Linked DNA regions of Homo sapiens: regions 1 and 2 are each linked to region 3. Evidence: fine-mapped expression QTL. A gene starts in region 3. Each other region holds a variant in brackets. All regions are shown on one strand. Distances are from middle to middle.

Evidence for each region. PIP is the estimated chance that this variant, and not a neighbour inherited with it, causes the effect. A credible set is the group of variants that fine-mapping cannot tell apart.
Region 1: its variant is the best candidate, but not a certain one, in a credible set for the expression of MMP15 in sigmoid colon (GTEx, PIP 0.62).
Region 2: its variant is the best candidate, but not a certain one, in a credible set for the expression of MMP15 in skin (TwinsUK, PIP 0.87).

The regions. Positions count from the first base shown.
Region 1 is chr16:57,993,948-57,998,205 of GRCh38, reverse strand. It overlaps ZNF319 (zinc finger protein 319), which reads left to right. Exons shown (of 2, transcript NM_020807.3): 2 at 1-3,530. The coding sequence ends at 1,689. Among named protein-coding and RNA genes, the nearest start is that of ZNF319, 4.6 kb to the left of the region's middle. The variant G/C (reference allele first, on the strand shown) is at 2,156.
Region 2 is chr16:58,063,230-58,067,487 of GRCh38, reverse strand. No RefSeq gene overlaps it. Among named protein-coding and RNA genes, the nearest start is that of MMP15, 40 kb to the right of the region's middle. The variant G/C (reference allele first, on the strand shown) is at 2,601.
Region 3 is chr16:58,023,917-58,027,916 of GRCh38, reverse strand. MMP15 (matrix metallopeptidase 15) reads right to left here and starts at 2,163. Exons shown (of 10, transcript NM_002428.4): 1 at 1,405-2,163. The coding sequence starts at 1,566. RefSeq lists enhancers at 499-1,048, 1,599-2,148, 2,381-2,966, 2,967-3,554 and a silencer at 2,015-2,154.

The sequences.
Region 1 (4,258 bases), 30 kb after region 3:
CCTCAGCACCATGCAGAGCCACCGCCAGCCCTGGCAGAGCACACGCTGCCTCCGGGCACGGCGGAGAACCCCCTGGGCTGTGCCGTCTATGGCATCCTCCTGCAGCCAGACCCCGGCCTGCAGCCCCCACAACACGCACCCCTGCAGGCAGCAGGAGAGCCAGGCCCCAAATGTGGCGTGTGTGGTCACGACCTGGCGCACCTGTCCAGTCCGCATGAGCACCAGTGTCTGGCGGGCCATGACCGCTCATTCCAGTGCACACAGTGTCTCAAGATCTTCCACCAGGCCACTGACCTGCTGGAGCACCAGTGCGTGCAGGCTGAGCAGAAGCCCTTCGTCTGTGGGGTCTGCAAGATGGGCTTCTCACTACTCACCTCACTGGCACAGCACCACAGCTCCCACAGTGGCCTGGTGAAGTGTTCCATCTGTGAAAAGACCTACAAGCCAGCTGAGGCAGCGGAGCCAGCCACCACAGCCGCCCCGTCGCTTCCCGCAGCACCCGCGCCTTCCACTGTCACCCCTGCTGAACAGGCCGACAAGCCCTACAGCTGCCCCATCTGCCAAAAGCCCTTCAAGCACCTGTCGGAGCTCTCTCGGCATGAGCGGATCCACACCGGTGAGAAGCCCTACAAGTGCACGCTGTGTGACAAAAGCTTCAGCCAGTCGTCGCACCTGGTGCACCACAAGCGCACGCACAGCTCCGAGCGGCCCTACAAGTGCGCAGTCTGCGAGAAGACCTTCAAGCACCGCTCTCACCTGGTGCGCCACATGTACGCGCACTCGGGCGAGCACCACCTGTTCCGCTGCAACGTGTGCGAGTTGCATTTCAAGGAGTCGTCGGAGCTGCTGCAGCACCCGTGCACGCCAAGTGGGGAGCGGCCCTTCCGCTGCGGCGAGTGCCAGAAGGCCTTCAAGCGGCCCTCGGACCTGCGGCAGCATGAGCGCACACACAGCGCCGAGCGGCCCTTCAAGTGCGACCTGTGCCCCATGGGCTTCAAGCAGCAGTACGCACTGATGCGCCACCGGCGCACACACAAGACCGAGGAGCCCTTCAAATGCGGCCTATGTGAGAAGGGCTTTGGGCAGCCCAGCCACCTGCTCTACCACCAGCACGTGCACACCCTCGAGACTCTCTTCAAGTGCCCCGTGTGCCAGAAAGGCTTTGACCAATCTGCCGAGCTGCTGCGGCACAAGTGCCTGCCCGGCGCGGCCGAGCGGCCCTTCAAGTGCCCTGTGTGCAACAAGGCCTACAAGCGCGCGTCGGCCCTGCAGAAGCACCAGCTGGCCCACTGTGCGGCGGCAGAGAAGCCCCTGCGCTGCACGCTTTGCGAACGCCGCTTCTTCTCCTCTTCCGAGTTCGTGCAGCACCGCTGCGATCCGGCCCGCGAGAAGCCACTCAAGTGCCCAGACTGCGAGAAACGCTTCAAGTACGCGTCAGACCTGCAGCGGCACCGGCGGGTACACACAGGCGAGAAGCCCTACAAGTGCCCCAACTGCGACAAGGCCTTCAAGCAGCGGGAGCATCTCAACAAGCACCAGGGCGTGCACGCCCGCGAGCAGCAGTTCAAGTGTGTATGGTGCGGGGAGCGCTTCCTAGACGTGGCCTTGTTGCAGGAGCACAGCGCGCAGCACAGTGCCGCCGCCGCGGCAGCGGAGGGCGCCTACCAGGTAGCCGCCTGCCTGCCCTGACTCTGCGGCTGTGGCCCCTACCAGCCTGACCTGAGTCGGCGCCGTGGGCCCAGCAGGCCTCGCGCAGCCTAGCTCCTCACAGCTGCCTTGCACCAAGGGCCCCACCCAGCTCGGTGTTCTGAGACCTCGGGAGTGAGGACGCAGGGGTATGAGGCAGGGAGAGGGTGTGCCGCTCGTACTCCTGGCACCAGCGGGCAGTGCGGGCGGCCAGATTGCTGTGGCCCATCCTGATTCCACAAACCTCTTTCCCATGACAAGATTCACTTTCTTGAGAGCCATCAGCACCCCCCTTATTTCCGGGGCACTGGAGCCAGGCTGGAAGTCAAGTGGCTTCTCCCTGCCCTAAGGAGGGTGTGATGCCAGCCCAACCTTCCCATATCTTTCAAGCTAGCAGCCACATAGGTTAGGAAAGCGGAGGCTCATGGTGGGGCTGGGGCCCCAGAGGTGGGCTAGGTGTAAGGCATCA[G/C]TTGCCGTGTGGGGGAGAAGGCCAGCTTTAAGACGTAGGCCTGGGGACTGGGAGGGCAGAGGGTGAGTCACAGCCCTCTCCGTCTGCTCTAGCCAGGGGCGACGTGTCCCCAGGTTTCTGGCAGGGGAGATGTGCAGGGTGGGTCTTGGGGCTGGGTCTGCCTGGAGACCAGTGGGCCCAGGGGGAAGGGGGAAGCTGAGAAGTTCGTGTGACACCCTCAGCCAAGGGACAGTGCCATCCTTGGGGACAGGAGGAAAAGCAGCCTGTCTCTGCTAAGGGCAAATCCTCCGGTTTTGGAAGCGCCCCTCCCACCTTTGTAGTGCAGTTCCTAGGTGTGGTGGGGAATGTGCCGTGCTCTCAGCAGACAGAACTGCTGGTGTGAAAGGCAGGGATTGTCAGCCCACCTGAGGCTGGGAGGAAGCAGGACCAGGCCTAGGATCTCCCCAGCAGATGCAAACAAGTGTCCTCCCCTGAATTGTGTGAACCAAAGCGTCAGGGGCTTGGGGCACAGCCCCAGTCAGCTCAACCCAGTCCTGCTTCAGAGCCAAGACTAGGCCAGGGTGGGGACCCCCCCAGTACCCTCCCTACATCAATGTGGCTGCTGGCCTGGACCCCAGGGGTCTGGTACAGCCAAGATGTTCTGGACAACATCCAGCTACTTCAAAGGCCAGAGTGTCCTTTGGGTCCTCCTAGAGTCCCCCTAGGTCTCTGGCTGCCCATGAGGCTCATGAAGCAGAGGGTATCCCAGTCATAGGGAGCAGAAAGAGCAAGTGGGTTAAGGAAGCCTGTGGGGGACCTGGTGGATGGAGTTGACCAACATCGCTGGGTGGCTACGGCCCTCCTTAGGAAGCCCAGAAGGACCTTTATTATTAAAATAATCATTTTGAACCCTGCTCTATCCCCTGCCCTCTTCCAGCCCCACCCCTCCCTGGTCTTGAAAGAAGACTAATCAGTGGGCACACCAAGGGCCCTGAGGGGCAGGGAGATGCCACCATGCTTCTCTGTCACCGTAAGAAGGCTGACCAGCCACGCCCACCTCCTCTGTCTGACTGAGTTCCTTCCTGTGGCCACAGGGAGGGGCTGGTCCTTCCCCTCGGTGCTGGCTCTCTGTCACAATGCCTCAAAAGACATGGAACCCAGGCCTACAACCGTCCCAACTGCTAATTCTTTTCCTTTCATTTTGCTTTCTGAAAGCAGTTTGTTATACTATTCATAACATTGTAGAGTTTAATTTCATGTCATTTTGGATCTTATATAAAAATGTGAGGATTTGGATTTTTAAAAAGAATGACTCCATTTTAGGTAGCCACTTTTGATGTTAATATATAGTGAGTCCAATGTATGCTTTAGAAGTAAAGACATTGACCGTCACAGACCACTGCACTGCTTGTTCTGCTCCTTCTTCCACAGGGGAACGATGGACATGGAGAGGCAGAGAGGGGCACAGGCCTGAGTGGCGGCTTGGAGACTGGGGCATAGGGCTGGGTTTGAATCCTGAGCTTTGAACGTTCTGGCTGTGTGGCCTTGGGAACCTCTTTGGGACTCAGTTGCCTCATCTGTAAAATGGGGAGGTTCACCTTGCCTTGCTTGGTTGTTGTGAGAATTAAATAGAGCCCTATAGAAAGTCCCTGGTGGGGATGTTTGAAGATGCTGACAGTACCAACTCCAGGACACCTGGGATTTTCAGGAATGAGCCTGAGACCTCCTCACTTCCATTGGCTTTAACCACAGCCCCCGAAGTGGGAGCTGACCTGTGAGAGAGCAGCAGCTCATGGAAGCCTGGAAGCCAGGCACTGGGCCTGGTGAGCATGAGAGCTTGCGCAGCCCCAGTGGAAAACCAAGGGCCTGCCTGCAGCAGCAGCAGATGCAGCCAGCCCGGCCCTGCCCCAGAGGAGGGGGAGGACTTGCTGTCACCCCACAACCACCCACCCTGTCACACAGTGACCCTTCTGCATGGTCAGCCCAGCTGCCTCCCACCTGAGCCCCTCCAGCACACCTTTCCTCCTGCACCCCGTCCCTGCCCCCGTGGCCCAGCTGCAACTCAGGCTCTGTCTGTTGCTCAAAGGTGGGGATAGAGGTAGGGGAGAGAGAGGGAAAAACAGC
Region 2 (4,258 bases), 39 kb before region 3:
GTCAAGCTGGTCTCGAACTCCTGGCCTGAAGTGATCCACCCGGCTTGGCCTCCCAAAGTGCTGGGATTGACAGGCGTGAGACACTATGCCTGGCCTAAAGTACCACTTTCAAAGTAATCTTGAAAGGACTTGTTTACAGTGTTATTTAACACTTGGAATTGTGAAGTCATATCCCCAGGAAAAATTACTAAATCTGCATTAAATTTGCCTCTTTTTCACCCCAACTAATTCTTTTGGATGACTGCCATAAACATCCCAAATTAAAATTCTCTGAGGTCATTTCAGGCTATTGTGTCTTCCCCAAATAGTACTTCCTTGTTTAAAATGATCAGAAAACATCAGGTAATGCAAGACCTTTTATGAGAACTCGTACATACAGGGACTCTATCTTTTCTGAGTAATTATTTTGGAAGCGGAAAAAAAAGCATGCCTAATATTCAGGAATAGCTGGTCTGTACAGAAGTATTTGTTGTTCCATTGTTGTAATAGAAAACAATTGGAAATGCCCAAATATCCTAATTGAGTTATTTGATTGAATGGAATACTAAAGAGCAATTTAACAAAATCAAGGTGAATTTCTGCATAAGACTATAGACTTAAGAAGTATGCATCTCTTTTTGTATTACACAATCTATTTGGAAGGAATTGTAGTCAGTGATGGGAAGGGGAGGGGTTGCTGTGGTGGGAGGGAGAGTTACCCAGCTTTGCAGATAATTTGGGGCTTTCAAAACATGTTTTTACCCACATACATTTATTATTTATTCCAAAAAAAAACTAATTTAAAATGTAAGACTGGACATGGTGGCTTACGCCTTAATCTCAGCACTTTGGGAGGTCAAGGCAGGAGGATCGCTTGAGCCCAGGAGTTTGAGACCAGCCTGGGCAAGAAAGTGAGCCCTCATCTCTACAAAAAAATTTTTAAAAATTAGCCAGGCATGGTGGCATGTGCCTGTAGTCCCAGCTTCCTGGGAGGCTGAGGTGGGAGGATCGACTGAGCCCAGGACTTCAAGACCGCAGTGAGCTGTGATCATGCTGCTGCACCCTAGCCTGGGTTACACAGGGAGACCCTGTCTCAAAAGTTTTTTTTTTTTTTAATTATGAAATGTAGGCATTTGAAAAAGAATTAAAATTTTCATCCCAAGAATTGTATGCAATCATTTTGTTTAAGCCCTTAATGGTTCCCCTCAAAGCTGTCAAAATTTTCCCCTGCCCCCTACTATTGGGATAAGGACTAAGGAGAGGGGGTAACCACAGTGGGTGTCTCCTTTGGGGGCTCTATTCTCAGCAATGGGAGGACCCCTGTGTGACAAACTCAGGGCTCACTTCTCCATGAGGCCCAGCAGGCCCAGTGCCTAGGGCCTACAATATTTCTAGGAACCCACAAACATGTTGTAATTTTTTTTTTTTTTTTGGAGACTGAGTCTCGCTTTATCACCCAGGCTGGAGTGCAATGGTATGATCTCGGTTCACTGGAAACTCCGCCTCCCTGGCTCAAGCGATTCTCCTGCCAAGTAGCTGGAATTATAGGCACACATTACCATGCCTGGCTAATTTTTGTATTTTTAGTAGAGACAGGGTTTCACCATGTTGGCCAAGCTGGTCTCGAGTCCCTGACCCCAAGTGATCTGTCCACCTCGGCCTCCCAAAGTGCGGGGATTATAGGCGTGAGCCACCACTGTGCCCAGCCTGTAAGTTTTTTTAGTCAGCTAAAAAAAAAAAATCCAGCCGGGCACAGTGGCACATGCCTGTAATCCCAGCACTTTGGGAGGCCGAGGCAGGCGGATTACGAGGTCAAGCAATCAAGACCATCCTGGCCAACATGGTGAAACCCCGTCTCTACTAAAAATAAAAAAATTAGCTGGGCATGGTGGCGCACGCCTGTAGTCCCAGTTACTCAGGAGGCTGAGGCAGGAGAATCGCTTGAACCCAGAAGGCGGAGGTTGCAGTGAGTGAACCAAGATTGCGCCACTGCACTCCAGCTTGGTGATAGAATGAGACTCTGTCTCAAAAAAAACAAAACAAAACAAGAAAGAATCCAATCCAACCTGTAATTTTTTTTTTTTTTTTTTTTTTTTGAGACAGAGTGTCTTGTTCTGTCACCCAGGCTGGAGTGCAGTGGCACGATCTTGGCTCACTACAACCTTCACCTCCCAGTTTCAAGCGATTATCCTGGTTCAGCCCCCTGGTAGCTGGGATTACAGGAACGCACCACCATGTCCAGAGAATTTTTGTATTTTTAGTAGAGACAAAGTTTCACCATGTTGGCCAAGCTGGTCTCGAACTCCTGACCTCAAATGATCCACCTGCCTTGGCTTCCCAAAGTGCTGGGATTACAGATGTGAGCCACTGTGCCTGGCCTGGGTTGTATTTGTTTTGATATCAACACAGTTATAACATATAATTTTGTTTGTATATGCATACAAAAATTATACAAATTGTAAATATGTATATATATATATATATATATATATTTTTTTTTTTTTTTTTTTTTTTTTTTTTTTAATTTGAGACAGAGTCTTGCTCTGTCACCCAGGCTAGAGTGCAGTGGCATGATCTTGGCTCACTGCAACCTCCATCTCCCAGGTTCAAGTGATTCTCCT[G/C]CCTCAGCCTTTCGGGTAGCTGGGACTACAAGGTGCTCACCACCACACCCGGCTAAATTTTTTTTTTGTATTTTTAGTAGACACGGGGTTTCACCATGTTAGCCAGGATGGTCTCGATCTCCTGACCTCGTGATCTGCCCGCCTCGGCCTCCCAAAGTGCTGGGATTACAGGCGTGAGCCACCGCGCCTGGCTGTAGATATTTATAATTTAAAAATTATACAATTATATATATAACATATATTACATATATTTGTAATTTTTTTTTTTTCACAAAAAGGGCTCGTGAAGACAAAATGGCCTAGAAAATCATAATGTGGTTCATGGGCAAATTTTTCTGCAAAGAGACAGATAATAAATTTTCAGGCTTGGGAGCCAGATGGTCTCTGCTGCAACTCAGCTCTGCCCTTGTAGCAGAAAGCTGCTATAGACAATACACAAATGGGTGGGAGTGATTGTGCTTCAATAAAACTTTATAAAAGCAGACGACCGGTTGTGGTGACTCACGCCTGTAATCCCAGCACTTTGGGAGGCCGAGGTGGGCGGATCACCAGGTCAAGAGATCGAGACCAGCCTGGCCAACATGGTGAAACCCCGTCTTTACTAAAAATACAAAAATTAGCTGGGCGTGGTGGCGCGTGCCCGTATTCCCAGCTATTCGGGAGGCTGAGACAGGAGAATCGCTTGACCCGGGAGGCAGAGGTTGCAGTGAGCCGAGATCACGCCACTGCACTCCAGCCTGGGTGACAGAGTGAGAATCCGTCTCAAAAAAAAAATTGATAAAATAAATTAATTAAAAATAAAAATAAAAAAATAAAAGCAGACAGTGGGCCCACTTTGGTCAGAGGGCCATAGTTTGCAGCCTCTGCAGCTGGTACTCAGTAAATGCCAACACAGTATTTGCTGAATGCATGAAGGAACTGGAGAGAGGTTGATCCCTGTCCGGTGGCTGAGTTAGGGGAGGGAGGAGAATAACAGGGAGTGGCTACTGGGCTGGCGGTCAGTTTTCTTTGTGTTTCTTCAGCCCCTAATTTGCTCTGTGACCTTGGGCAAGCTGTCGCCCCTTGGTGGGCCTCAGCCTCTGTCTGTGGGATGAGGGCAGCACCTCTCATTTGCTGGACTGTGTGAAGGGGATGAAATGTCACGAGGATGTGGAAGTGCTTGGAATAGAAAGAGGAGATTCCCTGTAGGCACCACAGGGCAGGAACTGCCCGCTTCCTGGAGGCCTGACAGCCTGGGGAATGTCAATTTGGCAGAGGAAAGAAGGGGGTGGGGGCAGCCAACACTGTGACCCGAAACGCAAACAGTCCCCAGAGAGGGGCCGAAACTCTCAGGTTGGTGAAAACACCCTTGTCAGGTTTCTATCCTGCCTCTGAGCAGGACAGGGGAAGGTGCCTGGTGCCCCAGTGTGAGGACTGTTGATTGGCCTGGACACCTGCTTAAAGCTGGAGTTTGCTTCTTAGCAGCCAGAGTCCCAGCCCCATGGAGGAAGCCCCATGTCCCCATCTCACCACAGGGCCACCAGATGACCTGGTCAGGCAAGCTGTATTGTGACCTGGACGGGCAATCTGGAAGCATGTATTGAAACTGACAACACACCAATGTCAGGTGTATTACTTAGATTCCTGTCAAGTTACACAATTCACTCCAGGTGGGCCAA
Region 3 (4,000 bases):
TCACCAACAGGAGCCCCCTAAAGCTCCTCCTGCCTGTGTGAATGGGGTGGGGGAGGGTGGCCAGACTGGGTCGGGGCGGGGCTCCTATCCTGCCTCCCACCAGGGCCTGGCTCCTCCTTCAGCTCTCCCTGGCCAGGCCAGGGAGGGAGGGCAGAGCAGGTGGGGAAATGGCTGGGAGGTGTAACTCGAGCCCAGGAGGAATTCCCTGCCCTTCCTCTATGCTTTTATTAAAGTAGGGCGGGGAAGGGCAAGCTTCCATCGGAAAAATCTCCCAGGCAGCCCGGAGAGGTGGGAAAGCCGCCGTGGGCCAGGGAGGGAGCACCAGCTGAGCTGCAAATAGAAACGGCGCTCAGGCCCGCAGCCCGGGCAGCCCAAGGGCACCAAGGCCTGAGCACCGTTCAGAAGCGGCTCCGGGGTGGTTCTTTCTCCCTACTCCCCGCCCAAGTCCTCTCCCCGCCTATCTGGGGCAGGGCGCAGGTCTTAGAAGTCGGGGAAGAGTGGACCCTGCTCTTGCTCTGGGGCAAGAAAGCTGGCGCCTTCGGTGTCCTCGCTCGGGAGACACCATGGAGCTGGGGCGCTGGCTGGACTCGGCTCTACGCCGGGATGTCGCGCCTGGTCACCCGCGGGACCCATCCAGAGCGGGGCCCCGGGAGGGACGCCAAGCGGGCTCCTAGCGAAGAGAGGCGCGGGGTCCACCCTCTCGAATCCAGGGCTTCGACGTAGGGGCGCTGTTGGGAGGAAGCGCTGTGGGAGGCAGGGTCCGTCCTTAGGACCCCGCCCGGGCGTGCCTAGGCTTCCTCGCAAAAGCGCAGAAAGTCGCCAAAGCGCCCCCGCAACCCGAGTCCGCTGCCTCAGCCGTTTGCACCCATCCCCCCGCCTCCATCCTGGCCCGCCGTGCGCGGCTCGGTATCACCCAGACGGGAGGCCACCTGGGCAGGAGCGCAGTTGCCCAGCCGCCCAGCTCTTGCTCCGCCTGTGGCTGTCCCCGAGAGCAGCCCCCTCCCCACTCGCAAAGAGCGCCACTGCGCGCCAGCCGGGCTCTCGAGGAATCGGCTGCCCTGGAGGGAAGGAAGGAGGGGAGGCAAGGGCTGGGGGCGGCGGAAGCGGCTCCCGGGACACAGGCTGAATGTAAGGGGGTCGGGGTGGGGGCTCAGTGCCCAGAACAGGGCTGTAGGAGTAGCGGGGAGGAGAGCGAGGCCCTGCGCCCTCAAGGGTTTGCGAAGAGGTGCGCTGCAGAGGGCGAGCTGGGGAGGGGCAGACTGCCAAGTCCGCTTGCTTCCCCGCCACGGCCCAGAACAGGGGGCGCGTCTCCGCTCCCTCCACCTCCAAGTCCCAGCCTGCGGACGTGGCGCCTCTCCCTCCAAGCCCCCAGCCCGCAGCCAAAGGGCAGGGCGGGGGTCTTACCTCGGCATGGACCTCCGCGTCTTCGGCCGCTACGCCAAGGCCCAGGCAGCCCAGAAGCACCAGGAGCAGCGGCAGCAGTCGCGGCCGCGCCGCCTCCTCCCGGTCGCCGAGGAGGCTGCCCGTCCAGCCCGGCCGTCCGGGCGCGCTCGGGTCGCTGCCCATGCTCTCGGCGCCCAGCCCAGCTCGGAACACTGCACGCCGGATCCTCGCACGCGCCTTGGAAACTTGCGACGCTCCCTGGCTCCTGGCCCGGCAGGCGCGCCGCGGACCTCGGGCTCCCGGTCCCCGCCGGAGCCGCCTAGGTCGCCTCGGCAAATTCCCAAGCCCGAGGAGAAGCGGGCAGGGCAGGTCCGGGAGCTCGGAACCAGCCGGCGGGAAAGGGGGCCGACCGGAGCTGCCCCCGGCGAGGTTCCGCAGCCTCGGCGCCCAGCGCCTGGGGCCCGGCTCCCGAGAGCAAGCGCAACTCCGGAGCCTTTGTCTGGCTCAGCGCTCCGGCCGCCCGGTCCCGCGGCGCTCCCTGCGCGCCCAGCTCCCTCTGTCCATGCCCGGGGCCGGGCGCTGCCCGGAGCGCGCGCCTCCTGCACGGGGATTCTGCTCGCCGCCGCGCCCGACCGGGCCCGGGTCCCCAAGCAGTCCCGGGAGGAGGCGCAGGGAGCCGACCCGAGAGAGCGAGCGAGAGAGCAAGCGAGCCAGCCAAGGAGCGGGCGCCCGACGTCCCCGGCGAGTTCAGCGCGGCTCCGGGCGCTCCCAGCCCTCCTCCCCGCGCGCCGCGGCCGCCGCGCTCTTAAAGGGCCAGTGTGCTCCCAATGCGCGGACCCGGGCGGGGACCGGGGGCGGTGCCCCAGCCGCAGGCTTCTCACAAGCAGGTGCGGGCGGCCGAGGCCCGACAGGTGGGCGGTCCGTTTACGCTTCCCAGACGGCAGGAAACCTCTCCAGCCCACCCCGCGTCACTCCCAACCCAGCGCCTAGGGGGCGGGGGTGACCTCCAACGCGACCCCCCGCGGAGGGAGGAGGCAGGGAAGGCGTGGTCTCCCCGCCTGGGAAGAATGAAGACTCCTCCTTCTCATACCTGGTGGGGGATACCGAGGCCTAGGCGGACGGGAAGGAGGTCTTAGGGGAGGGATCAAAGAGTCGTTTTAGGCTTAAATATAAATATATATGTATATATGGATATTTGTCAGCCTGAAACCTCTTTTCAAAAGCCGCAGGGTGTCTCTGGCCATTGAATAACTTTCCTCAGTAGCAAAGTGAGGGTTTTGTGCGCGTCGAGGGCGCGTTGCGGCGGACAAGGGGCAGGTTTAGGAGGGACACGGTTCAAGTTCCGCGTCCGCCCCTTAGCTGCCGCTTGCACGTGGGCAAATTAATCTCTCCGAGCCTCCATGTTCTTATCGGGAACGTGGGGCAAAGAGTTGGGGTGAGGGCGAGGTAAGACTTCCGGCTCCTGGCCTGGCGCAATAGGTGCCCAAGCACTTTGGCCACTGGCTGGTGCGAGTGAAGTGCGACAGTGCGGCCGGAGTCGGCGCGGGGCGGGTGGACACACCTCCCCGCGAAGCTTAACGAGCTGGATTTCATTCTATTCCGGAAGCAGCTTGAGGTCGGGGCGGGGTGGATGCAGGAGGCCAGAGCTGGGAGGCCCGGGTCGAAGGTCCACCGAGACCCGGGGACCAGGCCAAGGGCAGCCCTGGCGCGGCGGACTGGCCGGCGTGGTCAGTGGGTGAGGGTTGCAGGCAGGAGGGCGGAGACCGAAGATAAGCTGTTCCTTATCTTCAGACCCGGAAATGGAAGCCGTCCTCACCTGAGGGCGGTTTTCTCTAGAGCAGGCCCTCGGGGCACCCTAGCCGGCCTCACCTCCCGGAAACTGGAAATCAGGAGACCTGGCAGAGTGCCTTAGAGAGGGCGCGTTTGAACCCTCCTGGGATGTCCTTGGGGAAAGGAAGTCGGAGTTTAGAGAAAGGAACCGGGCGATTCTATCATTTCCACGGACTCACTTCTCTGTGGGATCCTTCATCTGGGAAGTTGGTTTCTAAATTCTCCACTTCGAAATTTGCTTTTGGGAAATGTGCAGTGGTCTTCAGACACGGACAACGGGGTTGTCCTTGTTTAACCGACCACGTCGCACTCTTTCATGATATTTAGTCCCGATTAGCCAATTTTAAAAAGTTTGGGGCTAGGTAAAGTGGCTCAAGCCTGTAATCCCAGCACTTTGGGAGACCGAAGTGGGAGGATTGCTTTAGCCCAGGAGTTCAAGACCAGCCTGGGCAACATGACAAGACCCCATCTGTACAAAGAATACAAAAATTAGCCAGGTGTGGTGGTGTACGTCTGTAGGCCCAGCTACTTGGGAGGCTGAGTTGGGAGGATCACTTGAACCCAGGAGGTTGAGGATGCAGTGAGCTATGATCATGCCGCTGCCCTTCAACCCGGCTGTCAGAGCGAGACACTGTCTCAGAAAAAAAGAAAAAAAAAGTTGGGGTTTAAGGGGCTAGCTGTTAGTGAGAGGAGCCCAGGAATGAGTGGAGCAACGTTCTTTGAGGCCTGGGTCGGTCAAGTCTGGTGATTTTCTCTCTGTTGGAGGTTCCTCTCTTGGGGTCCAATC